Linked DNA regions of Homo sapiens: regions 2, 3 and 4 are each linked to region 1. The links come from fine-mapping of genetic effects on gene expression. A gene starts in region 1. Each other region holds a variant in brackets. All regions are shown on one strand. Distances are between the middles of the regions.

What was found. PIP is the estimated chance that this variant, and not a neighbour inherited with it, causes the effect.
Region 2: its variant is fine-mapped to the expression of DAPP1 in whole blood (TOPMed, PIP 0.94).
Region 3: its variant is fine-mapped to the expression of DAPP1 in whole blood (TOPMed, PIP above 0.99).
Region 4: its variant is fine-mapped to the expression of DAPP1 in lung (GTEx, PIP 0.93).

What each region holds. Positions count from the first base shown.
Region 1 is chr4:99,812,420-99,820,529 of GRCh38, forward strand. DAPP1 (dual adaptor of phosphotyrosine and 3-phosphoinositides 1) reads left to right here and starts at 4,408. Exons shown (of 9, transcript NM_014395.3): 1 at 4,408-4,595. The coding sequence starts at 4,495.
Region 2 is chr4:99,852,843-99,860,952 of GRCh38, forward strand. It overlaps DAPP1 (dual adaptor of phosphotyrosine and 3-phosphoinositides 1), which reads left to right. Exons shown (of 9, transcript NM_014395.3): 4 at 376-506. Among named protein-coding and RNA genes, the nearest start is that of LAMTOR3, 38 kb to the right of the region's middle. The variant G/A (reference allele first, on the strand shown) is at 3,478.
Region 3 is chr4:99,833,963-99,842,072 of GRCh38, forward strand. It overlaps DAPP1 (dual adaptor of phosphotyrosine and 3-phosphoinositides 1), which reads left to right. Exons shown (of 9, transcript NM_014395.3): 2 at 1,661-1,783; 3 at 6,327-6,460. Among named protein-coding and RNA genes, the nearest start is that of DAPP1, 21 kb to the left of the region's middle. The variant T/A (reference allele first, on the strand shown) is at 3,882.
Region 4 is chr4:100,063,530-100,071,639 of GRCh38, forward strand. No RefSeq gene overlaps it. Among named protein-coding and RNA genes, the nearest start is that of H2AZ1-DT, 120 kb to the left of the region's middle. The variant A/G (reference allele first, on the strand shown) is at 4,929.

The DNA.
Region 1 (8,110 bases):
CCCTTTTGATACTTTTAGCCAGGTAATTCTTTATTGTGGGGGCTGTACTGCACACTAGGATATTCAGCATCACTGCACACTAAATGCCAGTAGGCTCCCCAGGTTGTGACAACTAACAATGAAAACCACCTCAAAAATGAGGACCCAATTGAGAACCACCATTTTAGGGGCTATGGATACTATATCAGTGAAGGTTCTCCAGAGAAACAAAACCAATAGTATGTATATATGTGGAGTGTGAGAGTGTGTGTGTGTGAGAGAGAGAGAGGGTGTGTGTGTGTGTGTGTGTGTGTGTGTGTGTGTGTGTGTGTGCGTTGTATAAAATAAGGAATTTCCTCACATAATTATGTAGGCTGGTAAGTCCAAGATCTGCAGGGTGGGCTCACAGGCTGGAGAACTAGTTCAAGTCCAAAGGCTGTCTACTATAGTACCAGGAAGAGTTGATGCTGCAAATGAAGACCAAATGCAGTCTACTGGAAAATTATGTTGCTCGGGGGAGGCTGGTCTTTTGGTTCTGTTCAAATTTTCAACTGGTTGGATGAGGTCCACCCACGTTATAGAGAGCAATCTGCTTTACTCAGAGCCTACCATTTAAATGTTAATTCACTCAAAAACACTCTTATAGAAACACCCCGAATAACATCTGACCAACTATCTGGGCAACCCGTGGTCTGGCCGAGTTGACACGTAAAAGTAACCATCAAAGATATAAGGTGATCAAGACCCTGGAAGTCCCTGCCTCTGGGAGCTCACATTCTAGGCATTGACCCAGATGATAGGCAAGTGTTTCAGTTATCTATCGCTGGCTGTATTAGTCCATTTTCATGCTGCTGATAAAGACATACCCAAGACTGGGCAATTTACAAAAGAAAGAGGTTTATTGGAATTACAGTTCCATATGGCTGGGGAGGCCTCACAATCATGGCAGAAGGCATGGAGGAGCAAGTCATCTTATGTGGATGGCAGCAGGCAAAGAGAGCGCTTGTTCAGGGAAACTCCCATTTTTAAAACCATCAGATCTCATGAGACCTATTCACTATCATGAGAACAGCAGGGGAAAGACCCACCCCATGATTCAGTTATTTCACACTGGGTCCTTCCCACAACATGTGGGAATTATGGGAGCTACAAGATGAGATTTGGGTGGGGACAAGGAGCCAAACCATATCACTGCCTAACAAACCATCCCAAGCTTCATGGCATCAAATAGCAAACATCTTATTAAGTGCATGTATTCTTTAGATCCAAAATTCAAACAGGGCATGGTTTGTCTCTCCTCTTTGATGTCTGGGGCCTCAGCTGGCAATATGCAAACCACTAGGAGAGAGTGATTTGAATGGCTGGAGGCTGGAATCATCTGGGGGCTTCTTCAATCAAGTCTGGCACCTGGACTAGAATGATTCAAGCTGGGATTATCTGGGACTGTTGACTGGAGCACACACATGAAGCATTCCACGTGGCTTGGGCTTCTAGGCATAACAATTATGTTCCTAAGGGGAACCCCTGAAAGTAACATTTGGAGAGTGAGCCTTCCAAGAGACCACAATAGAAACTGCAAGGCTTCTTCTGACCTAGCCTCAGAAGTGATCCAGTGTCACTTCCACCACATTTTATTGGTCACAAGTGAATCACAGAGGCCAGGCCAGATTCAAAGGAGGGGAGTTAGGTGCTGCCTCTTGACAGGGAGCAGCAAGGTCACATTGCAGAAGAGCATGTGGGTTGGGAGATGTATGTGTGTATGTATGTATGTATGTATGTATGTATCTATCTATCTATCTATCTATCTATCTATTTATCTATCATCTATCTACTATCTATCCATCAAGAGAATTTGCCACAAGTAAGCAAATATTCTATATAATTTCAGGTAGAGCTAAAAACAGAAGTGGTATTTAGACTGTTACAGATACAAAGGATCTTCTGGGGTGATAAAAACCATTCTAAAATTGTATTGCAATGATGGTTGCACGACTCTGCAAATTTACTCAAAATTATTGTACACCTAAGGAAAATGAACATTATGATATACAAATTGTACCTCAATATACCTGTTAAATATACAACTAGCATGCCACAGGCACTGAAGGATAAGAACAGACATGATGCTGGCCTTGGTTCCAAAACAAGGTTTTTTGTTTTTTGTTTTTTGTTTTTTTTGAGACGAAGTCTCACTCTGCTGCCCAGGCTGGAATGTAGTGGCATGATCTCAGCTCACTGCAAGCTCTGCCTTCCGGGTTCACGCCATTCTCCTGTCTCAGCTTCCTGAGTGGCTGGGATTACAGGCGTCCACCACCATGCCCGGCTAATTTTTTGAATTTTTAGTAGAGACAGGGTTTCACTGTATTAGCCAGGATGGTCTCGATCTCCTGACCTGGTGATCCACCCGCCTCGGCCTCCCAAAGTGCTGGGGTTATAGGCATGAGCCACCACGCCCGGCCCAGAACAAGATTCTAAATCCCCTTTCAGTTACACAGCAATAGATGTCCCGGGAGGGATGGGCTCCAGCATTTTGTTGAAACTATCTAGCAAGCCTCCTGCAGCTGTTACCACTGCAAAACTAAGTGTGTAGTTAGTGGAGTGGGCGGGGTGGTAGGGATACTGTGAAAAATTGAGTAAATGACAAAGTGGGACAATGACATCAAAGGAGAGGGCAACAGACAGGACAGCAACATGAGGAAGGGCAAAAGGCAGGAAGATTCAGCCAGAAAAGCAGGACGATCTTAGAAAATTCTGCTACTTGTACTTCCAAAAAAGTTAAGAAAAAGAACAACCAGAATTTGCTAAAAATGGGAATGAAATAGATACTAAAACACCAAATAAAGGGCTCTAGAGAGGGAACAGGAACTCTAGTGCCCAGGCTGTTCCCCTGTCACTGCTGTATGCATATTCAGTATCTCCCTGGCCTGCACTGGCCTCTCTGTTCAAGTGGGCCCTGTCCTTCTCTGTGAGCAAACTGTAGCCAAAAGAATTTAAGTGCTCATTTAGTCAGTTATATATGTATTATCAGAGCTTAGTCTTCAGCAGACTGCCTCCAGACACTCAGGAACTTCCCACTGGCAACCAGTGTTACCCGGGTCTCACCGATCCCGGGTGAACAGTGGTAATAGGGAGGAAGATGAAGGATAGAACCATTGCACAGCAGCCTTTTGCAATCATCTAGTCCTTTAGGAACAGTTCTGCTGTGCTGTTTAGTCCTCAGGCCACACTGTGAGAACAAGTTACAGAGCACTGTGGTGAGTGCTGAATGAGTCAGGGAGTAGAGATAGGAAGAGAGAGAGAGAAAGGGAGAGGGAGAGAGAGACCTGTAGGTACATAGAAAAGGCAGGAAGCAACATATGTCCTTGACTCATTTGATACTGCACTTTGTTCCACTTCCCAAGGATTCAGTCACTGCAATTTACCTTTAGCATTCCAGGCAGATAGAATCCTGCTCTACATATGAATCTGGGCACAAAGCCATGCAGGTGTGAGTAAGCCCATGAAGGAAGTGGCACTCAAAGACTCTAGGAGTTCAGGCCAGGTGCAGTGGCTCATGCCTATAAGCCCAGCACTTTGGGAGGCCGAGGTGAGTGTATCACCTGAGGGTGAAACCCTGTCTCTATAAAAACACAAAAATTAGCAGAGCATGATGACGGGTGCCTGTAATACCAGCTACTTGGGAGGCTGAGGCAGAAGAATCACTTGAACCCTGGGAGGTGGAGGTTGCAGTGATCTCAGGTCATGCCATTACACTCCAGACTGAGTGACAGAGCGAGACTGTCTCAAAAAAAAAAAAAAAAAAAGACTCCAGGAGTTCTAATATGCCCCATTAGGTGGGCACCAGAATGGCCCCTTGTAACTTTTTCCTACCTTCTCCTCTCCTAATTCTTTTTCTGTGGAGGAAACAATAATTGTCTCTGAATCATCCCTATTCGGAGCATTGAGGATATATTAGAAGGTCTGGGTAAACAAGCAGAAATATTGCAAAAGTGCTAAAACATCAAACTTCAGGGTCGAATTTGTGGTTTGCTTCTGCTTTTTCTATCCACTCTAAAGGTGTTCCTGATAGAGAAGCTTCCTCAGTGTTCCCTGTGTTGGTGTGTAAGACAGAAAGAAGATGGGGTAAAAGAGTGCACGCATCCTCCACTACAAACCAGAGGCTGATAGCATTAGGGAGAAGCTAGGGTTTGGCCTCACACAAGCAGTTTGCACTGTTGTCCAATCCCAGGTGGGGTGGTTGCCTCTTCATTTCCTTTGATAGCAACCGCCTGTTGCGTGATGTAGTGTGGGTGTCCTCAGAGGTAGCTACCTAAGTTTGCATACTTCCTGACTGACAGAACACTCCTGCCAGTGCCTCCAGGCCAGGGTGGTGGTGTTGGTGGGAGGAGTAAGTAACCAAGTTTCACTTCCTTGCCTTGGAGACTCAGAGCCATAGCAGGCTGCTGTCTCACAGAGCGAGAAGGTGTCAGGAGCAGCCCAGTTGTGTCTCTCTCTCTACCTCTGTGAAGGGCGCGAATGGGCAGAGCAGAACTTCTAGAAGGGAAGATGAGCACCCAGGATCCCTCAGATCTGTGGAGCAGATCCGATGGAGAGGCTGAGCTGCTCCAGGACTTGGGGTAAGGCAGCAGATCTCCTTTCAAAGTACCTAGTGGGTGGACATTGACTCCGCACTCCCACCTGCATGCTTTGATTAATGACTATCTTCAGTGCCTTGTTGCCCTCTGCCACCTCAACCATTTATTTTTTTCCACTTTATTCATTTGTATCTGTTAAGTATCTTCTTGTCTGGGGCTAATTCCATTGGAAAAGCAGGCATTATTTTTCTAGATGTGAAAACAAGTTGGTTGAGAAAATAGGGAAAAAAATCAAATGTTGGACATTCTTTGAGAAGAGGGACAGAATTGGGATATAGAGGTGATGTTGCCTGGCTTCCTTGATGTTGCTCTGGTTTATGAATAAATGCGCTGTTCAAGAGTTTCTAGCACTGACCCAGGGACAGTAAAAGGACTGTGTTTCTGGTAAGATAAACAGAAAGCTTACCCTACTGTAAGGGAGAGGGACTTTTTCAAAAGACAGAGAATGAGGAAGTTCCTGCAACAGTCTCGCTTGTATATTTCTTTCTCCTGATACTGCATTTGTGAGATTTGATATCGTATGTATGTCCAGAGAGCCAACTTTGAGCCTTTCAGTACCAACAATCCAGGAAGAGGATAAAATTTCTGCTTCAAACAGGTAAGCATAGGTAGGTGGAGTCATTGGAGCTCTGTCTTTAAGAAGGGACCCAGATGACAACTCATCCGGGTATTTAATAAGAAACAAGTATTACACAAGAGAGGAATTGGGGATTTCCCAGAGAAACTGCCTAATGCACTGGGAATATCCCAATGAAGGTGGCTTTGACACCTGTGCATGAGGAGAGGCAAAACCTTTACCTTCTGCCTGGACAAATAGCTCTAACTCTTCATAGCAATCCAATGACATAGGAGCTGTTGTCATCTTCATCTTACAAAGGATGAAAACAAGTACCAAACAGGTTTGAATAACTTGCTTGCTAGTCACACATCAATTACATAGCAAAGCTGGGCATCCAACCTACCACAGGCTATGTCCGAAACCAAAGAAAAACCAAAATAGAGTTGAAATCTCTCTGTGTTAAGGCTGCAGAGATTGTATCTTTTTATGTTGTATTACTGTAAAAGTTTATTAATAATTCCTGTCTTTAGATTATAAAACTGAGGTCTCGGAATTGAACTCTACTTTCATTTGGCAAATCAGATAAAACACCTGGAATTTTCATTAAAGAAAACTCCCCTTATTAGGAAGCCAGAGCTCTAGAATCTCTCTATCCCTCTAGATTGAATCCCCAAACAGAAGAGGTAAAAGGCCCTTCTGTGAGCATCCAGCACAGGTGTCACCAAGTCCAAAAGCTAAAGCTGAACTGTGGCCCTCAGTGTCTTATTGAACTATTAAGTTACAATGCTTTACATGTTCTGTTAACTGTATTCCCAGCCCACTGTAATAGAAAACCCCAAAGGAGGAGATAGAGGAATATATTCAATTCTGGTCCTTTAGTTAAACAAACAATCCTAGAACCCAGAGTCTATGGTTGAGTACTGTGGGAACACACTTAGATGACAAAGATGAATTAGATGCTGTCTCTGTGCCCCACCATGATGTCAACAGCAAGAAGCAACTACAGGTGAAACCCACGGGTGGAATAGGACTGTGTCTTTCCTCCATGTGCAAAGAATAGACATTGAATACAAAACTGAGTCACACCACTTCCCTGCAAAAAAAAAAGGGTACATTCATGGCCAGATTTCCCTATTTCAGAAGGCGTGAACAATTAATAAACATGAGGATGATTTCTATAGCAATGGGCAACCTGCAGTTATCTGGGAAAACTGCTCTACAGTCCTGGTTCTTGACCTTGGCTGTGCTCTGGAACATCTTGACACCCAAACCACAGACTTGACAAATGATTTCAGTATCTCTGGGGATGGGTGTTTTCTTGTCAAACTCTCCAAGTAATTCCAAAGTGAGACCCTAGGTTGATGATCACTGCATAGAATATGTATCTACCAAATGCATTAGGTAAATGTGGTCTTGTTTTTCATTTTAAGTCTGTTGGGTGTGTACTTGAATCTTAAAATTACTAATAAATGTTGATATTTTGTTTGTTGGTTTAGGGGCATTTCGATTAGCAACTTTATTGAGGTTATTTTACATATCATAAAATATACCCGTTTCAAGTGTACAATTCAATACTTTTGACTAACTTTACAGAGTGATACAACCATCACCATAAATCAGTTTTAGGACATTTCTGTTCTCCCAAAAAGAACCCTCAGATGTATGGCTTATTTAAGCATACTCAACAGTGTGCTGGAAAAACAGCTGGGAAGAGTTGGGGTGTGGAGAAAGCCCTGATTTCAAGAATTTGCCTAATTCCCTGGTATAAATACTCCCACTATAGACAATTTCAAGCTGCCAACAATTTAACATCATCGAATTGAATATTTAATAATCAACTTGTGCCAGTACTTGCTCCTGCAGCACCTCACTGATACATTTTTTATAGATAACAATTTGAGAACTCTTGACAATGACTTGTTGCCTCTGCCAGAATACTGAACATAACTCGAACATTATAATGACTTTTTCTTTGAACCTTTAACCACTGGCGAGATAGAATCTCTACCAAACCTTCTGATTAATTTAGTTTCCAAAGACCTCCTTAAAAACAAAATGATTTAATGTAATGGATAGATAAAAGGTAGCTGGTTTTAATGACTTAATTTTTCAATTATTTTTAAGAGGTTATTTGAGTAGTTAGATAAATCCTTACGTTTATGTTTTTGATAGACATAAACAGATAAGTTAGTGGTTAAATTACAGAAATAGCAGAAGTCTTTGTTCTTGGGCCTCTGTTTTTTTCAGGCTCTGGAATATGTAAATCCTGTAAATTGAGCCCTGAACTGCAGCAAATCCATCACTTGCCTTTCCAGGACATATACAACTTGCTCAGAGTACAGGTTTATTATTTTCTAAAATACCTAAATCAAGCAACACAGTGCTTTTCCATGTCTCATTTATAGAGTGTCAGCCTAAAATCATTAATTTTCTTTCATCTAAAATACATTAATGTGTCCAGAAGCAAAGGAGAAATAAAACCATCTTAAATTGTTGCTCAGCTTCGCTTACACTTCTCAGGGGAGGGTATGGGCTTAGGGGGAAGAGAGGTGTGGGGAGGGCAAGAAGTGAGGGTGTGGAGAATCAGGGGAGAGGAAGGAGGTGGACCATGAACGAGGAGATGGGTCAGGCTGTTTGCTGCTTGCAAAATGAAAATATGGCAAAATAAAACAAGTAACAAATACTGGAGATATCACCTAAGTAACAAACTGGTAAAGAATAGCTAGTTAAATTACTGAAAATTCCAGCAATTCTTTGGCTTTAACAAAGGTTACTATACTATTTCTACATATAGCTATATATATGTATAAACACAAAAGAAATAACAAAATGAAAGTGTTTTAGCATACTTTAAAATTAAATATTCAAATGATCTAGTCAGTTGTAACTCCAAGTGAGAAACATAATAAACGTTCTCTTTTTTAAATACTTTCTCAAA
Region 2 (8,110 bases), 40 kb after region 1:
AATCAAATGTCACCTCCTTTATGAAAGCTGTCCTGAATCCTTTCATGGAAAGGTTCTTCAAGCAGTCTGGGGATGATTATCATGCTTTGCTCACACGGCTGCCATTGGTCTCATCACCCTGTTCATTTAAACGACCATATCTGTTACCAGTTCTGAGCACCAGGAGGCCAAGGAACATCTCCATCATGCTTTATATCTCAGTGTCCAGCTTAAGTGCCTTATACCTAATTGGTATTTGATAACTGTTGAGATAATGAGCGAGGGAATACATGAAAAAAACAAAAGACTTTCCAATCCAGCCACAGTTATCCAGTTAGCATTTGGACCTTCCTTCTGGGAACACTGTTCGATTATATATTTTTCATCTTCATTCAGGCACTCTGATGGTTCTAAAACATCCCTACCCAAGAAAAGTGGAAGAACCCTCCATTTATGAATCTGTCCGGGTTCACACAGCAATGCAGACAGGAAGAACAGAAGATGACCTTGTGCCCACAGCACCTTCTGTAAGTGACCTTCAACGTGACCACAAGCTCTCTCCCTGTCTAAAATCAATCAAGTTCAATAAAAGTTAATAAGAGTGTATTTGTTCACATAAAAATTCTAGCTTGGAATATAAAACTTGGAAAGGAATGTGAGATTTGAAGCCTATGACTCAGTTCATCTGGTCCTGGGTAGATCATAAAAATTACAATGCAGCCAGACATGGTGGTTCATGCCTGTAATCCCAACATTTTGGGAGGCCAAGGTAAGAGAATTGCTTGAGCCCAGGAGTTGGAGACCAGCCTGGGCAACATAAACATCTCTACAACAAACTTTAAAAAATATTAGCTGGGCATGGTGGCATGCACCTGTAGTCCCAGCTACTCAGGAGGCTAAGGTGGAAGGATTACTTGAGTCAAGGAGGTTGAGGCTGCAGTGAGCTGTGATTGTGCCACTGCACTCCAGTCTGGGTTACAGAGTGAGACCTTGTCTCAAAACGAACAAATGAAAGCAATGCAATAGTAATAGGATTTTAAATACTTCGAAAATGGAACTTAAATCTCTGTCCTTAGTTAACCAAACAACTTCAAAGTAGAATGGAAAAGAGAAGTTTGCATTCACATAGTTTTCTAAACTGTTTTCTCCTACAATTTTCTTATATTAAGAAAATATATTTTTTTAAATATTTCAACTATCTATGGAAGACAAATATTCTCCACCTTTACTATAAAAACTCAGGGTATTATTTTTTCTAGCTTTTTTTCCTTTACTGACTGAAGTTTACAGACAGAAAACACTTGTGCTTCTTTGCAACGTGAGCCATTGTTCAATTTCAGTGCAATTGGAGCACTCATTGTTTGTCCAAGAGTCCATTTATGTTTGTTCTGTGAACTGTGACTCTGCAGAGGTTCCTCTCCAACACCCTTTTCCCTTCATTATTCTGAAGGCCCTTCTATTTGTTGTCTCTTCCTTGTTTGCTGAATACTCCTGGTATAAGAAACCTCTATTTGGGCAGATGATAAAGAAGATAATACCCAAATAAATATCAAGAACTAATTCTGGATAGTAATCATGACACTTGAAAAATAATCACTTGAAGATATTCAGCTACAAATTATATTAAAATAAGTGTAACTTTCTATATCTGCAGTACTTTTCTCTACCCTTGACCAGAGAGATCTTTCTTAAAAAGAAGGCTTGCCACATGACCTCTGCTTTACATCCTTTGGTGATGCCTTTTGTGTTCATGGCCCACCTGGACCCTGCTTGCCTCTCTGTCTTCATCTCATGCTACTCCCACACTCACACTGTGAAACCTGTCTCTCTCAACATTGTGCTCTTTCTCCTCTCCCTACATCTGAAATGCTGCCAACACCATTGCTATCTACTCATCCCTCAAGACTGGTATCACGGATCATTATCTTCCAGGAAGCCTTTCTTCACCCCCACTAGCTTCTTTTACAATGCTCCTCTTCTGTGCTCCAGAGCACCCTCTGTTTGCCTTTATTCTAAAATTACCATGCTGTGGGCTAATTACCTTCACATCTCTCTGCCCTCCCCACCAGCCAGAAACATCTAAGTACATGAATCATTGCTTGTCCTTGCAGCTTTACAGCCTAGCCTGGCTCATGGCACATCTTACATATTCATTGCAGTGCTACATCTCCTCAGAAATAAAAATCCTGAAAATTGACTGAGAAAGTTATTTTGGCTTTGTTAGAAGTGGGGGAGAAGGCATCAAGAACTCAGAACTTGAGAAATTTAGGAGTGCAAGACAATAAATAGTCCAAAGGCAGAAAAGACCAAAGAACAAATCAAGATCTACTCTGCAACCAATTCTTGTTTTCCAGTTGTCCAGTCCCTTCATAATTTCCTCTTTACCCACCCTTACCCTTAATATAGATCACCAGTCACTTCAACATCTCTTTCATTTGCCCTGTTAGTTTAACTTCACATTCTCCTCTGCTACACTTCCCCTAAAGATCTCCACTCAAGGTCAAACAAACCATGTCCTATTAAGCGTGTTCTTTATCGGCAATAAAATGCAGATAATACCTAATTTGTGAGATTGGTGTGAGCAGAAGATATAGTATCCTTATGCAGAAATAAACCTCTTTAAAGCACATTCTGGAAACCTTGTTACTTACCTTCTTTTCTCACTCCAGCTATCAGATGGATTCACCTCTTTTAAAATGGAGTTTTTAAAATAGTGGTGAGTGATTGGTTGACAATGACTTGAACTCACACTATATAATGACAAGCTTATGAAGTTGATTGTACATCACTATGGACAAAAAAAATGTAAAGGTTTCCTAGAGGATCTGAAATGTTTCTCATTACTTCTCATTGGGGAATCATTGGTGACTGGACCAGTATAGCTGCTGGGGAAAGAGTTCTGGTCTGATCAGAATGCTCTTGTCCCTTATTGAACACAAGTTCTAAGCCTTCATTTGCTACCCCAAATGGCTACATGATGCTGCACCTCCATCTCCAGCCTGAGAGCCCTGAGGGTTTTCAAACTTCTGCATTTTCTTTTTGGGGTGTAGTTCTTGCTCAAGGTCTAGCAGTGGAGGAAGAGAATTAAAAGAACTTCTTGTTTGAAGCGAAAGTGAAAGATGCCCCACTGCCCAGAAATGCAGATGACTGTGTATAACTGTTTAACATCTTTTAGTAACTGCATTTGGGGAAATTGCTATTTATGTCTTATAAACAACATAGCATTGAGTTCCCATGATAGGATTAAATTTAATTAATTCATTTATTAAACAAACTTTTTTTTTTTAAAGTGCTTCCAATACACTCAGAACTGTTTTAAGCACTGGGAGTTTGGCAGTAATTTTGACAAAGGTCCTCCTCCCCTCACTGAGCTCACATTCTAGTGAAGATCACAGACAATAATCAATGCAGTAATCTGATACCAGACAGTAATACATCATGAAAAGAAAAAGTAGGATAAGGGGAGAAGAGGGAAGCAAGGGAGGCCTCTGTGAGGAG[G/A]AACCATTAGTAAGAGATTTCACTGAAGGGAAGGAGTGACTCATGTCAAGATGTGGAAAGAGTGCTGCAGGCAGAGGAAACAGTACAAAGGCCCTGGAGTGGAAACAAAATTGAGGTGCTTCAAAGGCTAGGAAGGTCAGAATTACGGGATGAAGTGAGCTAGAGGAAAAGTTGTAGAAGGTGAGATTATTGAGGTAATGAGGGGTCAGATCACATAAGGCAATGGAGTTTTCAAAGAGCAGCACCTCCCAGCTGAGCATTTAGAAATATGAGTGTTTCTGTTGGTGCATTGCTTTGCGGCACTACTATCATGCGTGAGTGTCAAGAGCCATGAAGAGTCTGACTTTACTCTGCTTGCAAGCTAACAAGTTAGCCTGCTGCAGTTTCATGTATGCTGATGGATGACACAAGACTTCTGGGTAAGCGTTGAAAAATAGTTTGCTATTCACAGGAAGAGCAACAGCCAGGATATCAGTATTTATGCTAATTCCCTGTGCTGAGCCGAAGTTCCCAAAGGGCAATATTGAAAGGGCCAGGTGATATCCACAATGGGTTGCCCTACAGGAGAGGAACCCTGAGCCTTGGGAACCCAAATCTTTTCTAATGATCAGTAGACATGTCTTTTGTTCTGAAGGGAAATATTTCTTTATTCCAAGGCTGCTTGTATAAGCATACTTTAAATATCAGTCTGCAGCAAAGAACTGTTAATGCCTTGCTCATAAGACATTTGGAACCTTGACAAGAGACCCGTGGAGATTATTTCCCAACAGTGATCAGGGGCTAACTATTCTTCAAAGAGTGGTAGAGAATTATCTTGCCCAAAATCTCAGTAGTACCTTTTGTACATAACATGAGAATTCTTTACCTTCTGAGCTTGTTTAAAAAAATTCTTGCAGATGGATTGAATGTGATACACGAAAGAAAGAGTAGCAGAGTCATGGCAGAGAAGCCCTGCTATTTACTGAGAAGGCTAACTCTGCAGGAGGGGTGGGTTGAGGGGATGAGAAAGAAGAGCTCTATTTTGGACATGTTAAATGAGAAATACCAATTAGTTGTCTTGGTAGAGATTGAGATTAATATAGTTCAAGTTCCTGACATAATAGGTCCTATCTAAAATGTTAGTTTCCTTAGCTTCCCTTTTGTGGTATTTGACGTTTTTAACAACTCCCTCCTTCTAAAAATTCTGTTTCCTTAGCTTTGGCAACATCTTTCTGTCTTTATTCCGTAATCTTTGACACATTTTATAGTTCCTCTTCTTGGATACTTTCCTTGCACGTTGCCCTTTTCCAGTATTTTGTTTTTGAAACTCTTCTCAGGTTTAACATTTTGTTGCTTATCCTTTCAGTCTTTTACTTGAAAAAAAAAAGTATATGTATGTATATACACACACACACACACACACACACACACACACACATAAAATAATGAGCTCTTCATTGTAGAGTTGTAATATTCTTGTTTAATTAACTATATATTTAAAATTTTTTTCATGTAATTACTTAGTTTTCTGGAACACCATTAAACAAATTCCATAATATTCCATTATTTGAGTATATCAATTTATTCAGTTAATCCACTATTATGTTTTAACATGCTTTTTTATTTGAAATAATGTCAAAGTTACAGAATAATTGCTAGAATAGTACACAGAACTTGGTTTTCCCCAAGTCGTTTGATAGTAAATTGCCTACATGATGCCCCATCACCCTGAATATTTCAGTGTGTATTTCCAAAAATAAGGGCATTTGCCTGCGTGACCAGATAGAGCCTTCCAAACTAGAAAATTAACATTGAGGCTGTGCCACTGTTTCATCCACAGATCTCATTCAAGCTTCACTAGTTTTCTCAGTAAGTTCCGTCAGAGTAAAAGATCCAGTCCTCAAGCACAAGTTGCACTTATCTGTCCTGTCTCTGGAAGATTCTTCACTTTGGAACACTTCCTCAGTTTTTCCTTAATTTCGTGACTTTGACACATCTGAAATTAAAGACCAGTTATTTTGTAAATAGTTTCCCAACTTTGGTTTATATGATATTGAATCATGATTAGATACAGGTTTTTTCATGTTGGCTACAAATACCACAAAAGTGATGCTTTGTTTGTGCTTCTCACTGTGTCTTCTCAGATGGAACACAATTGCAATCTGTCTCATAATGGTGTGTTTGATTACTTAAGTGGTGTCTGCCAGGTTTCTTCACTCTAAAGTCACCATATTCCCTTTGTTATTAAAAAATGTTTGGGGTGAGGTTATTTGAGACTATAAGAATATTCTGTTACTTATTAAATTTTTACTTGCCAATTTTAGCATTTACTGATGTGTCTTGGCTGTTTTAATCATTACTATGATTGTTACCAAACGATGACTCTCTGATTTTCTTATTCCTTTTTACATTCATTGGTTGTCATTCTACTGTAAGGAAAAGCTTTTTATTCTTCAAAATTTTCAATCATTTTTATATCAAATGGTTATAATCATGACTATCATTATTTATTTTGATCCTTCAAAATTTCCCTGATTTGGCCAGTCGGGGAAAGAGCCCTTTCAAGTGGTGTCTGTGTTCATATGACCTCAAAAAAAATTTTTTTTTTTTGGAGACAGTGTGTCACTCCGTCACTCTGTCTCCCAAGCTGGAGTGCAGTGGTGTGATCACGGCTCATGAAGCCTCGACCTCCTGGGTTCAGGTGACTCTCCCTCCTCAGCCTCCTGAGTAGCAGGGACTACAGGTGTGTACCACCACTCCTGGCTAATATTTGTATTTTCATTTTTTTATTTTTTTTTGTAGAGTCAAGGTTTCACCATTTTAACCAGGCTGGTATCGAACTCCTGGGTGCAAGCAATGCTCATGCTTCAGCCTCCCAAAGTGCTGGGATTATAGTTGTGAGCCTCCGTGCCTGGCCTGGCCTCAAAATTCTTTTAAGAACTTTCTTACTTTCTGAATAGCAAGATGATCCAGACTTATCTTGTTCTTTCTTTGTACCCAGCTCTAGAACCAGCTATTTCTCCAAGAAACTCTGCTCTTTTTCCACAGAATAGTACTCTAGAAATCGACATCTAGGTACTATGTGCTTATTGTTATCAGGATGTCACTCTCCCAGCCCACTCAGTGAGCAGAGCTGGGAAAATATGTATGTATATACATATGTACACATATATACTTTTACATCTGTATTTATCTGTCGATTCATTCATCGATCCATGAGTTCACAACAATGCTTCCAATACCACAAAGTTCATTCTAGTGTTTTCCCTTCTCCCACAGTGAGAAAATATGGATCTTATCATCCTCAGTACACTTATGTGGTGATCAATTGAATATAAGCAATCTCCCATTGCTGTTTCTACTACTCAACCCTTACCCCGACACTCCAACCACCCAGTCATGCTTCAATGCTCAGTTCCAGGCCACTGCTGCTCCCACCCTCACTACAGATGTCCACCTAGCCCAACTTGGCTCTGAAACTGTGCAGTAGCTGCCACCTCCACCCCTTCAGGCAGAAGCCCTCCACACCCTGCCAGGCTTCAATGCCTCGCACACAGCTGCTGCTGCCACTGTCACTGCCAGTGTCCACACAGAGGCTCCCTGTGCCCTACTTGGGCTCCACCACCCTGTACTAAGGTGCTTGAAAGCCCTCCACACACACATCAATGCCTGCCTTGCTTCACCTGAACTGTGTTGGCTACTGACTTCATTTAAGGCTGGCAGGCAAGTAGGTAGTAGGATGGCAGGAAGGACAGTCCTTTGTTTTTGAACATTTAGATGGTACCCCAATGGGGGCTCTTATAAACAGCTTTTCTGTTACAGTTCATAGATTTTTAAAGATAAATGTGCTCTATAATTATTTACTTTCTTACATCTGGAGACCCTGAATAAAATTAATAGTCTCATTGCTTTCCCATGCAGCCTTTGGCTTACCTATCAAAACCTTAGAAGAATACTACACTTATAGTACATTGTTTGGGTGGAGGTAAGATGGGATTATTCCCTAGCTTGATTTTAGTAAATAATTCTATCAGGATCTTTTATACAACAATTTACTCCTAGTTATTTTGCCTCTACAGATTTTAACCTGCAACAGCCCAAAATAATTACTTTTTGCCATTCCTATAACACCTGAATTCAACTGAGTCAATTCAATTTATTTAATGTTAAAATAAATCACACCAATTATGAGATATCAAATTCACCAATATTGATTAATATTATTTAAGTGAACATTTGGTTAGTTTATCCTTACTTTTATATCATAAGATTTTAAAAGAAGTGTTTGCTTATTTCCTGCTTTAACTCTTTTTATTGTGGTAGAGATGGTTGTTCCTCTTTTTATTTGGTTGGGAAAATTCACCTTGGAAAAAAATATTCTGGAAATTACCATAGAAAGAACCTTGGTGTCAACCAAATCACTTCCCAATTTTTGTTAATTTTGTTTCTTACTAAGACATATGATGACATCACATTTGAACAAAATATTCTACCACGAATTGAATTTCTTGTGGAATTTATGAAATGATAAATTTCTTGATGTTAAGCTACTTGTCTTATGCAAATTTCTGTTCACACAATTCTCCACCCTTATATTTCGTAGGTGTTAGCTAAGTGTGTGCTATTATTTTTACGTTTGAATTAATGACAACAT
Region 3 (8,110 bases), 22 kb after region 1:
GTCATACTATTTTAAACATGAGGAACCAAAGCTCAGATTGGTTAAGTAACATGTCCAAGGCCATACAGCTAGTAAGAGGTACCACCTGGATTGGGACCCAGGCAAAGCAACCCCCGGGGCCACAATCCTAATCATCACATTTCATGCCTCTATGACATCGTTTAAAAGAATGTGAATGACCTGTTATTGGAGAAAAGAAAGATGGTGCAGAGCAATATGCCTAGAAAATAAAAATAATAAATAATGCTCGTATGTTTGTAGAATCAGGAGTGGAGGTACACATCCAATGCCTCTAAGTGTGTAGACTATCTCTTAAGAGGAAGCACAGGAAAATGGTTACCAAGGTGTCCTCTAGGAAAGGAACAGGGAGCCTGAGGGCCCAGGGTGAAGAAAACATGTTTTGCTATGTCTCCTTTTGGACAATTTGAATTTTTTTTTTTTTACCATAGATATATATTACCTTTTCTAAAACACAAATATCATTTTGAATCTCCTTGAGCATTCCCTAGCTCTTCAGATACTTGTCAGGCTGAAACAGTACTTGGTGGCATTTACTTCATACTATAATTCCTTCCATCCAGCTTCGTTTCACTCATGACAATAGCCTTTAGTATTATAGCACAGAGGTTTCGCCGTGAAAAGGTACCACACTTGAAAAAGAGTGTGAGAGACCAAAAAAAGAAGGAAATTGGTCAAAGCCTATTCTTATGGTATTTTGACTTGGACTTTAAAAACCAATTCTGATTACAAAGCAACACTGTATTAGTTTGCTAGGGCTGCTATAACAAAGAACCACAGCCTGGGCAGCTGACTATAAGAAATCGATTGCCTCACAGTTCTGAAGGCTCAAAGTCGGAAATCAAGGTGTCAACAGGATTGGTTCCTTCCGAGGGCCGTGAGGGAGAATCTGTTCCAGGCCTCTTCCTGTGGCTTGGAAGTGACTGTCATGTTCATGCGCTGTTCTCCCTGTAGGCAAATCTATCTCCTGATTTTCCCTTTTTACAAGAGGACACCAGTCATATTGAATTAGGGCCCACCCTAATGACCTCATTTTTTTTTTTTTTGAGATGGAATTGCACTCTGTTACCCAGGCTGGAGTGCAATGGCATGATCTTGGCTCACTGCAACCTCCGTCCCCCAGGTTCAAGTGATTCTCCTGCCTCAGCCTCCCGAGTAGCTGGGATTATAGGTGCCTGCCACCATGCCAGGCTAATTTTTGTGTTTTTAATGGAGACGGGGTGTCACCATGTTGGCCGGGCCGGTCTCGAACCCCTGACCTCAAGTGATCCGCCTGCCTTGGCCTCCCAAAGTGCTGGGATTACAGGTGTGAGTCACCACACCCAGCCATGACCTCATTTTAACTTGGTAAAGACCCTGTCTCCAAACAAGGTCACATTTTGAGGTACTGAGAGGTTAGCACTTCAACATAAGAACTTTCAGGACACAATTCAACCCATGTCACGCTACTATTAGTCAACTCTGTGCTCTCCTTTCAGCCCCACCCAGGGATTTCCTTGTCCTAATGTTGGGGCTGAGAGCTGGGTCTCTGGGCTACTTATCTTGAAGAATGTTGCTAGGTAATCTTTGCAAGGAAAAGCCAGTGCAGGGGGAGTCATGCCATGGTTTGGCCTGAGTGAAAGCGCTGTTCCCTCCTTTCTAGGTGGTATCACGGCAACCTCACACGCCATGCTGCTGAAGCTCTTCTCCTCTCAAATGGATGTGACGGCAGCTACCTTCTGAGGGACAGCAATGAGACCACCGGGCTGTACTCTCTCTCTGTGAGGTAAGGTGCTTCAGGGCTCTACGACTTCAGCATGGGCTCCTCTGTCACTTACTGACTTTATCATCACTCAAATTGCCAGACAGCAAAACTTCCCAATTCCTGTTGGACCACCAGGTTAAAGGATTCCAAACTCTAAATGATGAGGGTGTAAAACAACATTCCTGCTCCATTCATTAGCAGGAAAAAAATTGTTAGAGCTGGAGGAGACATGAGGAATTATTTGATGGAAACCTTTCATGGGACTGTTGAAGAATCTGAAACCCAAAGCGGTGGAATGTCTGGTACCTCAAAAATCAACAATAGAAACAGTGCCAGAATCCAAATTCCTGACACCTGGCTCAGTGTCCTTTTCACTATTCTTTGATTTCTCTGTAAATGCAGAATGATTTATGACTGTACGGCTTTCATAGTCACAACCTCAAGGAGGCAATATACATGTTTAAAATTTTTCCTATAGTGGGCTAGCTTTTCATATTGAGTCTCTATTTCTCCCAAATGGTAAGAAAGTTAATCCAGTCCCCACCAGGTTCATACAGCCAAATGCAGTCATTGTCCAGATCTTTCAGGTCCTCCCCACCTCACACCCCCTTCTTTCTGTCTGGTGCCCCAGATCAGAGAGGCTGACCAAGCTTCTGGTAGTCAGGGGAGGCGGCTGGTTCTCAGTCGCATCTGACACTCTGGCTTCCACTGACATGTAGCAAGTATTCTTGGGTTTTTAGGCGCTTCTCCATGGATTAGGCAGGGGATGTAAGGACTCCATGAAATTTCCCTCAGCCACCCACCCATTAAGCTCAAACTGTTATTGTGTTACTGTTCTGATGGCACCTCCATATACCCTGGAGAGTCACTCTTCCCTTCATAGTGCAGTTCCTCAAGCTAATCTGGCCTCAGAGGCTCTCTCACTTCTTTCCCAGTCTACACGGTCACTACTGGTCACTAACTCAGTAGCAGCATTCACATTGTCTCTTTGGGCTCTGGGCCTTGCTTCTATATTCATTTTCTATGCTACATAACAAATTATCAAAAACTTAGGGACTTAAAGCAACGCAACTGGATTATCTCACAGTTTCTGGCTGGATTCTCTGTCCAGGATCCTACCAGGCTGAAATAAAGGTGTTGGAGAAGCTTGTGGCTCTGATCTGGTATTTAGTGTCTTCTTCCTTCATTTTCTCCTTTCCTCTTCATCCTTTTTCATCCATTCCCTTGCTGCCGTAGAACTGAGGTCCTCCTTTTCCTTTTAGCTGTCAGCCAGGGGCCATTCTCAACTCCTAGACGCCACCCACAGTTCTTTGCCACATGGCACCCATGGCTGTTTACCACATGGGTGTTTGCTTTCTTGCATGCCAGCCAGAACACATCTCCCTGACTTTTTCTTCTGTGAGCAGCCAGAGAAAACTCTGTTTTACAGGGCTCATGTGATTAGTTCAGGCCCACTCAGATAATGTCCATATCTTAACATCAACTGACTTGGGACTTTATGACCTGCTAAATCCCTTCCCAGTAGCATGTAGACTAGTTTTTGATTGAATAATTGGGATAAAGTGTGTGTACTCCAGGGGCTGGGATTTGGGATCATCTTAGAATGCTGCCTGCCACAACTCCCATTCCTGGAACAGTGAAAATCTACAGGCCTACTTGAAGTGGGTGGGTGTGCGAAACAGGTAGAGGGTGATGGGGTAAGTAGGGGTCACAGAGGAAAAACAAGCATATTCATTAACATTTCTCATGTCACCCTGTTATATTTTATTTATAAATTTTCTGAATAACATAGATGAAAAAATTATTAATCCAAGATGGAATTCTGTTTGAGTGGCAACAAGAATTGTGCTTTCTCTGCTCAACAGCAAATGTTAAAAGTTCATCTAATGGTTAAGTTGTAGATGCTTTATTGCACACATCAGAGGTCCTCAACCTTTTTGGCACCAGGGACAATTTTGCCACAGACCGGAGCAGCGGCAGATGGTTTTGGGATGATTCAAGTGCATTACATTTATTGTGTGTTTTATTTTTGTTATTATTACACTGTAATGTATAATGAAATAATTATACAACTCACCATCATTCAGAATCAGTGGGAGCCCTGAACTTGTTTTCCTGC[T/A]ACTAGATGGTCCCATCTGGGGGTGATGGGAGACAGTGACAGTTCGTCAGGCATTAGATTAACATCAGAGGCACACAGCCTAGATCCCTTGCATGTGCAGTTCACAATAGGGTTTGCACTCCTATGAGAATCTATTGCCTCTACTGATCTGATAGGAGGTGGAGCTCATTGAGAATGCAAACAATGGGGAGCAACTATAAATAAAAATGAGCTTCGCTAGCTCACCCATCACTCGTTTTCTTGCTACGTGGCTGGCAGGGGGATGGATGGGGACCCCTGGCATGAATCTTCCAAAAATGAAAAGTTAATTAACTTTTCACCTATGTATGTCTCATCTGAGCAATTAGATCATAAGCTTTTTATAAATCAATGACATACATATTTCATATACATAAAAAATAAAGAATAAATTATTGATTTTCATTGCAAGCACTAGAGAATGCTTATTAAAAAAATGACCAGCAGAGGTGACAAAAACCACAGACTAATTCAGGAGAATGACTATTTTTGTTTTATGAACAAATATTCACTTATTTGTTCATTCTTTTAATGATGAATATTTGAAAGCATTTATTCTGCACCAGCCACTTTGGTACGTGTTGTAGAACAGTGGTCCCCAACCTTTTTGGCACCAGGGGCTGGTTTTGTGGAAAATGCGGGTTCAGGATGAAACTGTTCCACCTCAGATCATCAGGTATTAGATTCTCATGAGGAGTGTGCCACCTAGATCCTTCACATGTGCAGTTCCCAATAGGGTTCAGGCTCCTGAGACTCTAATGCCATCACTGATCTGACAGGAGGCAGAGCTCAGGCAGTAATGCTTGCTCACCCACTGCTCACCTCCTGCTGTGCGGCCTGGTTCCTAACAGGTACCCAGTCTGCAGCCCCAGGATAGGGGATCCCTGCTGTAGAAGATTGAAATACCTTATTTTGGGGAATTACAGCCTCACAGAGCCAAAAAGACCACATACAAGTAACATACTACAAAGTAGAGGTTGACAAATAACATAAAAGAAAGCAAGATAAGTGTTTAGGTGGTTCAGAAGGGAAAAAGCAGTTAACTTAAGCTGGAATTATCATGTAATACTTGACAGAGGAGGTGGTACTTGAACTGCACCTTAATGAGTGGCTGGGATTTCTACCAGCAGAGACAAAGAGAAAGACCGTTTCAGGAAAAAGGAACAGTATGAACTAAGGGACAGAAGTGGAAACTCCTTGAAGAGCAGTAGATCCAGTTGGACTAGGGCAGCTGTTCTAAAGGTGTGGTCCCCAGACCAGGTGTGTCACCTAAGAACATGCTAGGAATGCACAGTCTCAGGCCCCACCTTGGATCTACCGAATCTCAATCTGCAGGGGTGGAGGTGGAGGTGGCAGCAAGCTGGGTTCTCACAAGCCCATCAGATGATTCTGAAGCATGCTAACATGGTAGCATGGGCTGCACTGAGAGTAATAGCAGGAAGTGAGGCTAGAAAGATAGAATGGGATCAAATAAAGTGGAGAGGCAGATATATATATATAGATATATATAGATATCTATAGATATATATAGATTAGATATCTATAGATATATATATAGATATATATATATTGTTTAATACTCTGCCTCATTTCAAAAATGAAGTGGAAAATGACAATGTAGGAAATTTGATATTTTATTCAGTAGGCAGTGGAACATGCACGGGAGGAAAAGGGCTAGGCTCACGTAACTAATCAAGCGACAGAGCTGAATTCTGATTGACTCCCAAACAAGCAAGGGAGAAAAGCCCAAGGCAGAGGAGAGTGTGGTGAGGGTGTCATATGTCATTTCTATCATTCCTATTCTCTGCCCTTCTTAAACTCATGCCCCTTAGCAGCATAATGTTCAAGGACTCTTTTGGTAAGTCTAGGAGTAGATAGGGAGAACAGTCTCTTGTCTTCCATTAGAGTGAAAAGTTGAGGCTGGGCGTGGTGGCTAACGCCTGTAATCTCAACACTTTGGGAAGCCGAGGCAGGAGGATCACCTGAGGTCAGGAGTTCAAGACAAGCCTGGCCAACATGGCAAAACCCAGTCTTTACTAAATATACAAAAATTAGCCAGGCATCGTGGCAGACACCTATAATCCCAGATACTCAGGAGGCTGAGGCCAGAGAATCACTTGAATCCAGGAGGCGGAGGTTGCAGTGAGCCTAGATCATGCCACTGCACTCCAGCCTGGGGGACAGAGCAAGACTCTGTCTCAAAATAGTAAATAAATAAATGAATTAATTAATTAATAAAAGTTGAAAAGAGCAAACTCTGCCAAAAGAAACTAGTGATGCTATTTAAAACTGTCAGTGGTTTCAATGATTGCCTAATTCTCAGTTCTTATAAAGGGTTAATAGTGATGCTAACATCTGAGATCATATTTCCCTTCAACAAGATATTTATTTGTTAAATAATATTAAATACTTCTTTTTCCCTTTTAGGGCCAAAGATTCTGTTAAACACTTTCATGTTGAATATACTGGATATTCATTTAAATTTGGCTTTAATGAATTCTCATCTTTGAAGGATTTTGTCAAGCATTTTGCAAATCAGCCTTTGATTGGAAGCGAGACAGGTAAGCTATGAGCAGACACTTGACTTATGAAATAATGTTTCGGGATGGAGGAGAGACAAGGCAGATTTCAATTTAAGAATGTCATTGTTGTCATTTATATTTCAGCATTATCTTGAAGAGAAAACAATGTATTTTGTATAAAGTAGATATTTTCTCAGAATGTGTTACTTAATGGATTGATTAAAAGCACACAATTTCTTTAAAATGGGCTCACCATTTTAAAATAACATATACAATACACACAAAAAGAACAAAGGTAAAAATGACTTTTTGATTACTCATAATTTCAGATATAGGCAGTTTGCATATGAGTGAGACCCACAGAAGTAAATTTTGAGCATTTTAAAAACTAAAATTCCCACTTAAATGTTCACAGAGATCACTGAATATTGAAAATATTAACTAGGAAGCACTCTCCTAAGTTATAAAATTCTGTTTCTATTGTCACGGTTTTTTAAATAAGATTTTAAGCTAGACTTAACTATGGCTGGAAAAGTTTGAATTTTCCTGTTTGAATGGTTAGAGAATTAAACCAGAAAAAAATTCATGTGTAAAGAAAAAAAACACAAAAAACAGTCTATCTTGGCACTTGAATTATCTAAGATTGAACATCTTGTTTATTTATATTATTTTAATGAAGTAAAATATCATCCCTGTATTTGTGATATAGAATCACAACACTTTTGTCCTAAATAATGATAAATCTTAGTTAATCAAAGACTAGGAAATTCCAAGAACCTGCGGCACAAGAGGAACTCAAGACTTAATAACACAACCAGTTACCATGAGTTTGTACATACGTGTTTTCTTGGCAAACTTGCCAGTGGGCTTTCTGTTAACTTCAGTGTGATGGGAAGAGATGGCATCATTGGCTTCTGTCTTTTCTGCTATTTATGTGGTGTGGGTAGTCCCTGATGTGACTCACACAGTGTCTAGTATACATGAAGTGCACAGCGGAAACTAGAAAATAGTTGCTCTGCTTTATACTGACCACACCAAGCCCAAGAAAGAATAACCCAAACTACGAAATGAAGTTATAACCTTTTTTTCCTTCTTTCTCCTGGTATAAATTCTCCCAATCAACCCTGAAAATTACTTCACCATTTAACAAGCAGTTGTTCCCATGAACAAATGGCCAGTGGAGGTGTATTTATTTCCACTGCTACCTTGGCCTTGGCAAGCATTTCAGTTTCTCAAATCCCTACACTTCAGTCTCCTTTCCTGCTTGCATCCAATTCCACACTTGATTTTGTTCAGTTATTGGTCACTGGCCATGTAGAGGAGATTTTTAAAGCCAGGGTTTTGTTTTGTGTACCTCTAATTTTTGTATTTCATATCCGCCAGGTCCTGGCCCACTGCAGGGCATTTTGGGTGAATAAATAAATGAATACATGGATAACTATGAGTAAGAACTCTTTGTAGTCTTCAAAGCCACTAGAGTTGTCATTTTTCTACTTTCTCTTTTTCTTCCAACCAAAGACAGCTCCCTTCTTTTAAATTCTTCTCCTAGACTCTATTTTCAACTTCTTTGATCATTCCCTGTGCTCCTTCCTGGGCCTTCTCCAAGTTAGGGAAAAGATACATATTCTGCCTACTGGCAGATTTCAAAACATTTAAGATCAAAGTGAAGGCAGTGCTTTCTGGTTGAAC
Region 4 (8,110 bases), 250 kb after region 1:
CTGCCATCCTGTGGCAAATTTATTTTCTAGATAAAAATCCATTTGCAAAACCACGTTTTTTATTTTTATCATGGATCACGGTTTCAGATTTTATCAGTCCTCAGTTAACACAGGCACACCATAATACACACATATTTAGCAGCATTTTGCTTTACTGGCATGTTCCACAATGCAGTAGCATACAGTTTATAATTGTGAGATTTCACAAAACATTTTTCTAAAGGACTCTCCTCAATTATCTCCTTATTTCTTTCCTCAGTGGGTTTTCAGTGGATGCTTGGGCAGTAACAGTTTATCATAGCTTCAGTGAGACTTCCTTGGTTGTCTCTCTGTATTTGGAATACTTACAGATACTTTCCGCTGGAACCCAGATTTGGATTTCCTTTCTTGGATGTCCTCTCTTCTGATCTTCTAGACTTCTACTAAGTTCCAGCATTCTTATTGGCGAGATAAAAGGCACAAGCAAGATCAGGCAGGGTGCTTATGACAGAATGTGCTCATGTGTCGCCTGGTTTTGACCATCTCAGGTCAGCATCTCTGGATAAGCAGGGTCCACATGGGGCTCGGGGAGATAGCGGGCAATAGTGTCCTTGTTTGGAGTTTGACGTAGCCTCTGTGACTAGGAGGCTGACAGCAGGCAGGTTTCACAAGGGTAAGTTTTGTTCATGCTGTCTACCCTAAACCATTAGGACCTAGATTCTATTATAGTGGAAAATAATAAGTCTGAAAAATAATAACAACAATGCTAATGGCTAATCCTTTGGAGTCCTAATTTATATGCCATGCCATGTTCTAAACACTTTACATGCATTATTTCATATTTCAAACTATCCTATGAGTAGAGGCCATTATTATTCTTATTTTACAAATTAAAAAAAAAAAAGCCCCGAGTCTTACAGTGACAAGATGCCTTGTTTAAGTTTACTCAGCTGTGGACTGGAGGGCTGGTGGACCCAATGAGTGAGTGAATAAAGTGTTAGGTTGGATGCCCAGTGTATGTACTTCAGTTTTTTCTTCCTTCTAAATCATTTCCTTACAGCTCAAGGAATCTTCCAGAAGTTGCATTTTCTTTAATTTTTCTTATACCTCATTCAATATAACTTTCTCTTATTTGTTTGGAAAGAAAACCTAGGGATCATGAGATGTCCTTCATTTATCCTGGGCCAGGTACTAGTAGTAAAGTTGTACTGTTTTTCTACTGAAAAAAGTACATCTCCAGTCTTTGACAGCACTTGGACTGATAATCAACTTGGAAGCAAAAAATGTTTCCCTAGACCAAAGAGAGAGTCCCATTTTCTTTCTTTCTTTCCTTCACTCCTTCCCTCCCTCCTTCCCTCCCTCCTTGCCTCTCTCCTTGCCTCCCTCCTTCCCTTCTCTCTGTCTCTGTCTCTCTCTCTCTCTCTCTCCCTCCCTCTCTTTCTTTTTCTCTCTTTCTTTATTTCTGTTTTTTATTTTTTTGACAAGGTCTCACTCTGTCAGCCAGGCTGGAGTGCAGTGGTGCGATCATGGCTCACTGCAGCCTAGACCTCCCGGGCCCAAGCAATCTTCCCATCTCAGCTTTCCAAGTAGCTGGGACTACAGGCATGCATCATCATGTCTGGCTAAGTTTTTTATATTTGGTAGAGACAGGTTTCACTATGTTGCCCAGGTTGGTCTCAAACTCCTGGGCTCAAATGATTCTTCCGCCTCGGCCTCCCAAAGTGCCAGGAGTCCTATACCTAAATCATTCACTGATAACCATAATAGGGGACCCCTCTAGACAATTTTTGGTCAAAACATCATGCTAAAGTAAACTAACCACAGAATTTATTTTAATGTACATTTATTTTCTGCTTTTGGTTTTGTGGAAAATTCAAGTGTTTAATTTCCTGCCACTTGGCTGTTAACATGACACTCTTATACTGGTAACAGACACTGTTGTGCAGGATTGGATGGGGTTTAGTATGTCCAAATGATATTTCATCATTCTAGGATTATGTTCAGTCTCTTTCTCTAATGCATGCTGGACACAACATGACCTTGTTTGCTGGTTCTGATTTTCCAAAGGACCTTTGACATTCTTTCAGAATAAAGGTTCCCTATTGAAATTTTAGCTACATATCTTATTCTGCATTTTTATTATGCTGCTTTAACTACTGTCCCATAAATTGATCTTCATCAAACTTTTTTTTCTCATTCATGATTCAACTTATTTCATGGTGCTCGGAGGGTCTGTCCATATGTAATAATAAACAAAATAGCCTTATATTTTATATCTGTAATGATAAATATTTATTGCATGTTTACTATATGCCAGGCACTGTTCTAAGTGCTTTATGTGTCTGTCTCATTTAATATTCACAACCCTATAAGATTTTTACTATTATCGTCTCCAATCATAAAATACTTCATACTTCCTCCATAGAGGAGAAGAGTGATGCAAGCATGGAGAAATGAATCAATTCACCCAAAGTCACATAGTTTGAAGCAGCAGAAGAAATGTATGTGTAATAAATATTAATTGCTTTTGAAATTTTATATCCTAAATTAAAGCTATTTTAAAACAAATCAAAAGAAGAAATATAATCTTAATCCCTTATATCTCATTCCACATCTGGTTTTGATCACTTGTATGTCAACAGAATCGTTTTTCTGTATCAGATTCTCCCCTGGCCACCAGCTTAATAAGGGATTGTATTAGTCCGTTTTCATGCTGCTGATAAACACATATTGGAGACTGGGCAATTTACAAAGGAAAGAGGTTTAATGGAGAACTCACAATTTCCACGTGGCTGGGGAAGCCTCACGAAGATGGTGGAAGGCAAGGAGGAGCAAGTCCCATCTTACTTGGATGGCGGCAAGCAAAGAGAGAGCTTGTGCAGAGAAACTCCCTTTTTTAAAACCAGCAGATCTCGTGAGACCCATTCACTATCACAAGAACAGCATGGGAAATACCCGCCCCCAGGGTTCAATCATCTACCACCAGGTCCTTCCCACAGATGCGGGAATTATGGGAGCTACAAGATGAGATTTGGGTAGGGACACAGAACCAACCATATCAGGGACCATTGAAGGGGCACTGGCAGCACAATAATGAGACAAAACCCACAGTCTGCATCCACTTCCCATCTCTCATAATTTTGGAATCCGGTTCATTTTAGCTGTTTTACTGACACACACAGAGGTATATCTACCCTGGCCTCTAAGGGTGGGCTGGTCAACTGAGAGTGTCTGTTCCTGGTCACAGCTCCACTCCTACCCCTCCCATGCACCCTTGTTACCCAGTTGCATCTAATTCTAGAGAATTGGCTCCATCTCTTGTTTATCATTCTGTTCCTGCTTTTGGGATTTACATTTGGTTTCTCTGGTACTTGACTTCCAGCTTCTTTGTAGGACCATGTGACGGACTTTCATCCTGGGAAAGGCTAGCATTACATTTAAGAGTGAGGTTTCTGGAATCAAGCTGCTGGAGTTCACTGCCCAGATCTGCCACTCACCACCACGTGATCTTGGGCAAATCCAATAAAAATAGCTAAAAACCTCAGTTTCCTTATCTGTAAAATGGGAATAATTAAATGGAAATTGTGAGATTTCATGTAAAGCACTTACAGTGCCTGACAGATTGCACTCACTCACTCACTCACCCATTTATTCAGCAAGTATTCACTGAGAGCTTTTTTTTTTTTTTTTTTTTTTTGAGACAGTGTCTTGCTCTGTCGCCCAGGCTGGAGTGCAGTGGTGCAATCTCTGCTCACTGCAACCTCTGCGTTCTGGGTTCAAGTGATTCTCCTGCCTCAGCCTCTCAAGTAGCTGGGATTACAGGCGCACACCATGGCACGCGGCTAATTTTTGTATTTTTAGTGGAGAAGGGGTTTCACCCTGTTGGCCAGGCTGGTCTCGAACGCCTGACCTTAGGTGATCAGCCCGCCTCGGCCTCCCAAAGTGTTGAGATTACAGGCGTGAGCCACCGCGCCCAGCCCACTGAGGGCCTCTTATGTGCCAGGCACTGTTCTACTTCTGAGACCACTAAAATGAACCAAACAGACAAAAATCTCCACTTTTTTGGAGCGTACATTTGGGTGTGTGTATGTATGTGTGTGAGTGTGTGTGTGTGTGTGTATGTATAATAGCAGAAAATAAGTTAACTAAGAACATTTATATTATATTAAATGATGATAAGGGCTAAGAGGAAAAATAAGGCAAAAAAAAGGACTGGAAAATGTTGGAGGGCTGGTCTATAATTTTAACTACGCTAGTTAAAGGGGCCTCATTAAGATATTTGAGTAAAGACTAAATGGGATGAGTGAGCCAGCTAGTCAGTTTTCTCAGGACACAGAATACCAGGCTGAAGGAACAATGGGTGCAAAAATCCTGAGGCAGCAAGATCTGGTGGATTAAGAAAACAGAAGGAAGACAAGTCTCACTGAAGCAGAATAACGGGATTTGCTGAGGCATCACATGTAGGATGTGAGAGAAGGAGAGCAGTCAAGAAAGACACCAACTTCTTTGTCTAAACTATAGTCAGTATGTAATTGTCATTTACTGTCATTTACTGAGGTGGGCAGGCTGGTGAGAGAAGTGAGTTTGGGGCTAGGGTAGGGGGATGGTTAATGTGGTTAAGGACATCAACCTCAGATTTGGACATACCAGATGCCAGTTAATCACCTTCACCTAAGCTAACGTATCAAGAAGCCAGTTGGATATGGAAGTCTGGAGTTCAGGGGAAAGGTCTGGCTAAAACAGAAATTAGTAGCCTGTAGCTAGTATTGAAAGTTATGAGATTTGGGTAGGGACACAGACACAACCATATCAGGGACCATTGAAGGGGCGCTGGCAGCATAATAATAAGACAAACCCCACAGTTTGCATCCTCTGACAATGGGATCATCAGAGGAATTTAGTTGGAAAAGAGGAAATCCAATGTTTAGAAGTCAGGGAGATAAGTAAGT[A/G]TCCCGTAAATGGTGGCTGCTAGTGTTACCATCACAATTGCTTCCCCAGCTCCCCCTACTTGAGGTCCACCCATCAATCTAGCTCACGGTCAATCCCAGCTTCCACCAGCTCTCCATGTTTCCTCTAAGAGGCCCTTTGGAAAAACTCACCCTCTGCTGTGTCTTTCAGTTTCTCTAGAGGACGGTATTGTAGTTGAAAACATCATTTCCAGCTATGGTCATCCAATTGGGATCACATTGCCTTTTCCTGACAGCACCGGCCATCCTGGGTAGAATCAATTGCACCCTCCTGCTTTTAGCACATTGCTGTCCTCTTAGAAAAGTTCCCTTCAATCCCCTACCTTTCACTGGTCACCACTCCACCCACACTCCAAACACTGGGAAGCCAGCAGTCTGCTGCCTCAACACCCAGCAATCTGGATCTGACTGCTTCTTTCTGCCTCTGGCTGCACAGAGACCAAGTCTCAGGGAGCTAACAATGCCTTTCTCTTTGACCAGGGGCAATTCTTTCTCTCCTTTTCATTTAAGGCTTTTGGACTTTTCTTGAAGATTTGAACTCTCTGGCTTAACACATCTCGCTATGGTTTTGTTTGTTTTTAACTTTTAGTTGGAAACTTCACAACATAAAGAGTATATATTATATTTTGTACAATTTAAATAATATTATAAAATGAATGCTTGCATATCCATACCCATACCCATCTTAAGGAAAAGAACACTCCAGTGGCTCTGAAATCCCCTGTGTGCCCTGCCTTAATTCTGTTCATTTTCCTCCCCACCAGACGCTAAGTTGTTCCTTTGTAGCTTTGTCATTACATCACTCAGAATTTCATCGGGAAAGAAGACTCACTATAAAAGATTTAAGATAGGGGTTATTATAGGACTTACACCTTATACCTCCTATACCTTTCAGTGAAGATCTGAAAGGGGAAGTGCGAAAAATGGAGTAAAAACCACTAACCAGCCCTCCTGAAGCACCATGTTGATGGGTAAGTCGGAATTTCAAGGAGGAGCTAAGAATCCAAGTGCATCTAGCAACGGGAGTGGGGCCACAAAGAGGGAGATGGAAAAGAATCCTACGGGAAGTGATTGCCACTGTAGCTGCCCCCTCTGTAGGTCTACTGTTGGTCAGCAGGCCCCCAGTGAGGAAGAAGGGCTGGGAGCTGAGTTGAGCAGAGGAAGTATAAGCTGCAACCTCCTGGCACTTCTGCATGTCTGTCACCACATTTGATGGCACAGATCTTTTGAGAAAATTGGATGCTGCTTCACTCTGCTTCCAATATCTTGTTCAAGTTCCTCTTTTGACCAAGTTTTACTTTAATCTGCACAGGGTAGAAAACTCTGGGATATATAGTTCCTAGCTTAGTCAGGTTGTCAATAGAATAAACCAGCACTGCCATCTATAAATAAATCCTTAGGCAGTATATTGTTTAGTTTTGGCTTTATTTTATCATAATAAGAAATATGCAGCATATTTTTTTCTATCACTTGCTTGTATCTTTTTAAATTATTGTTAACATAAAATTTGGGGAATCCTTCCTGTTGTTTCATTCACTTTTAATTACTGTATATGATATTCCAAAATATAAATATATAATTTATCTATATAGAATTAGATATTTGTTTTTTCCCCCAAGTATTGCTTTTATGAGTAATGTTTCTTCTGAGTATTGTATGTCTTTTCATGCACTTGTGCAAGGCTGTCTTTAATACATACATATAGGAGAGAAATTGCTGAGGAGTAGGGTATGCTATATATACTTTATTATATATTGTCAAACTGTTTTCAAAGGGGCTTGTGCTGATACACTCCCACTAGCAGACTAAAAGTGTTTCTGTTGCTAAACATCCTCATATGAAGATACTTGACAGCATATATTTTAATATTTGCAAAATCAGGGCAGTATAAATACCATTTGATTTTGGTTTCAATTTGTTTCCCTAATTACTAATGAGACTAGACATCTTTTTTTGTGTGTATTCACCATAAGTATTTTCTCTTCCCTGAAATGTCATCTTTTGCCCTTTTTAATAGTTCTTCATACATTTTAGATAATGACTTTTTGTTGGTTATTTGTATTGCAAATATTCTCTTGCAGTTTATGGTTCATGACCAGTATAAGACCTTTCTGTCTTGCTGTTCTCTTCCATTCATCTACTTACCTATCTCTGTTCATTTTCACGCTGGTTTGTCTTGTCGTGTTCTTTATTCTGTCTTTTGATGAACAGAAAGCCCAAATTTAGTATAATTAAATGTGGCTATTTCCTCCCCTTATGGTAACTTTGGGTCTTACATAAAGCATCCTTGTTTTCCTCCAGGTCATAAAGATATGCCTGGTATTGCCTTCTAAAATTGTTCTGGTTTTGCCTTTTACATTGAAGTCTTTAGTCCTTGTTATGGTTTGAATGTTTGCCCCCTCCAAAACTCATGTTGAAATTTAATTGCTATCGTAAGAGTATTGAGAAGTAAGACTTTGAAGAGGTATTAGACAAGAAGAGCTCCACCCTCATTGGTGGGATTGGTTCGCTTATAAAATGGCAAGTTAGGCTCCCTCTTTCTCTCTTACTCTCTCTTACTCTCCCACCTTCTGCCATGGATGATGCAGCAAGGAAGCCCTGGCAAGATGCCAACACCTGGATTTTCCAGTCTCCAAAACTGTGAGCCAATACATTTGTTTCTTATAAATTACCCAGTCGGTGGTATTCTATAGCAGCACAAAATGGACTAACATAGTCCTTAGTTTCCCACAGATACGTAATACATATTTATAATAGAGTTTTTGTATATGCATGGGTTTGTTTCTGGCCTGTAATCTGTTACATTGGTTTTGATATCTGCAAAGGAAAATGTCTCCATCTTGTTCCTCTTTAGCATTGTCTTGGTACTTCTCATGTAGAAAAACCATACGCTTTTCAACATAAATTTTAGAATCAAATTGTCAAGTTCCCTAAAAAAATTGGTGGTAATTTTGATTGGAATTGGGGAACAATGGAAATCTTTACAAACTGCTGATTTGTTCCCAAGAGATATGTTCTTCCTGCTCATAAGTTTATGGCTGCCATTTGAAGACTCTATCACCCTTTTTGGCAGCTAATTTTGGCCATGTGTGGTAGAGTACTTGTAAATAGCTGCAATTATTCCGCTCCCTGTATTCATACTCTTTTGCAATGTGACTTTGATG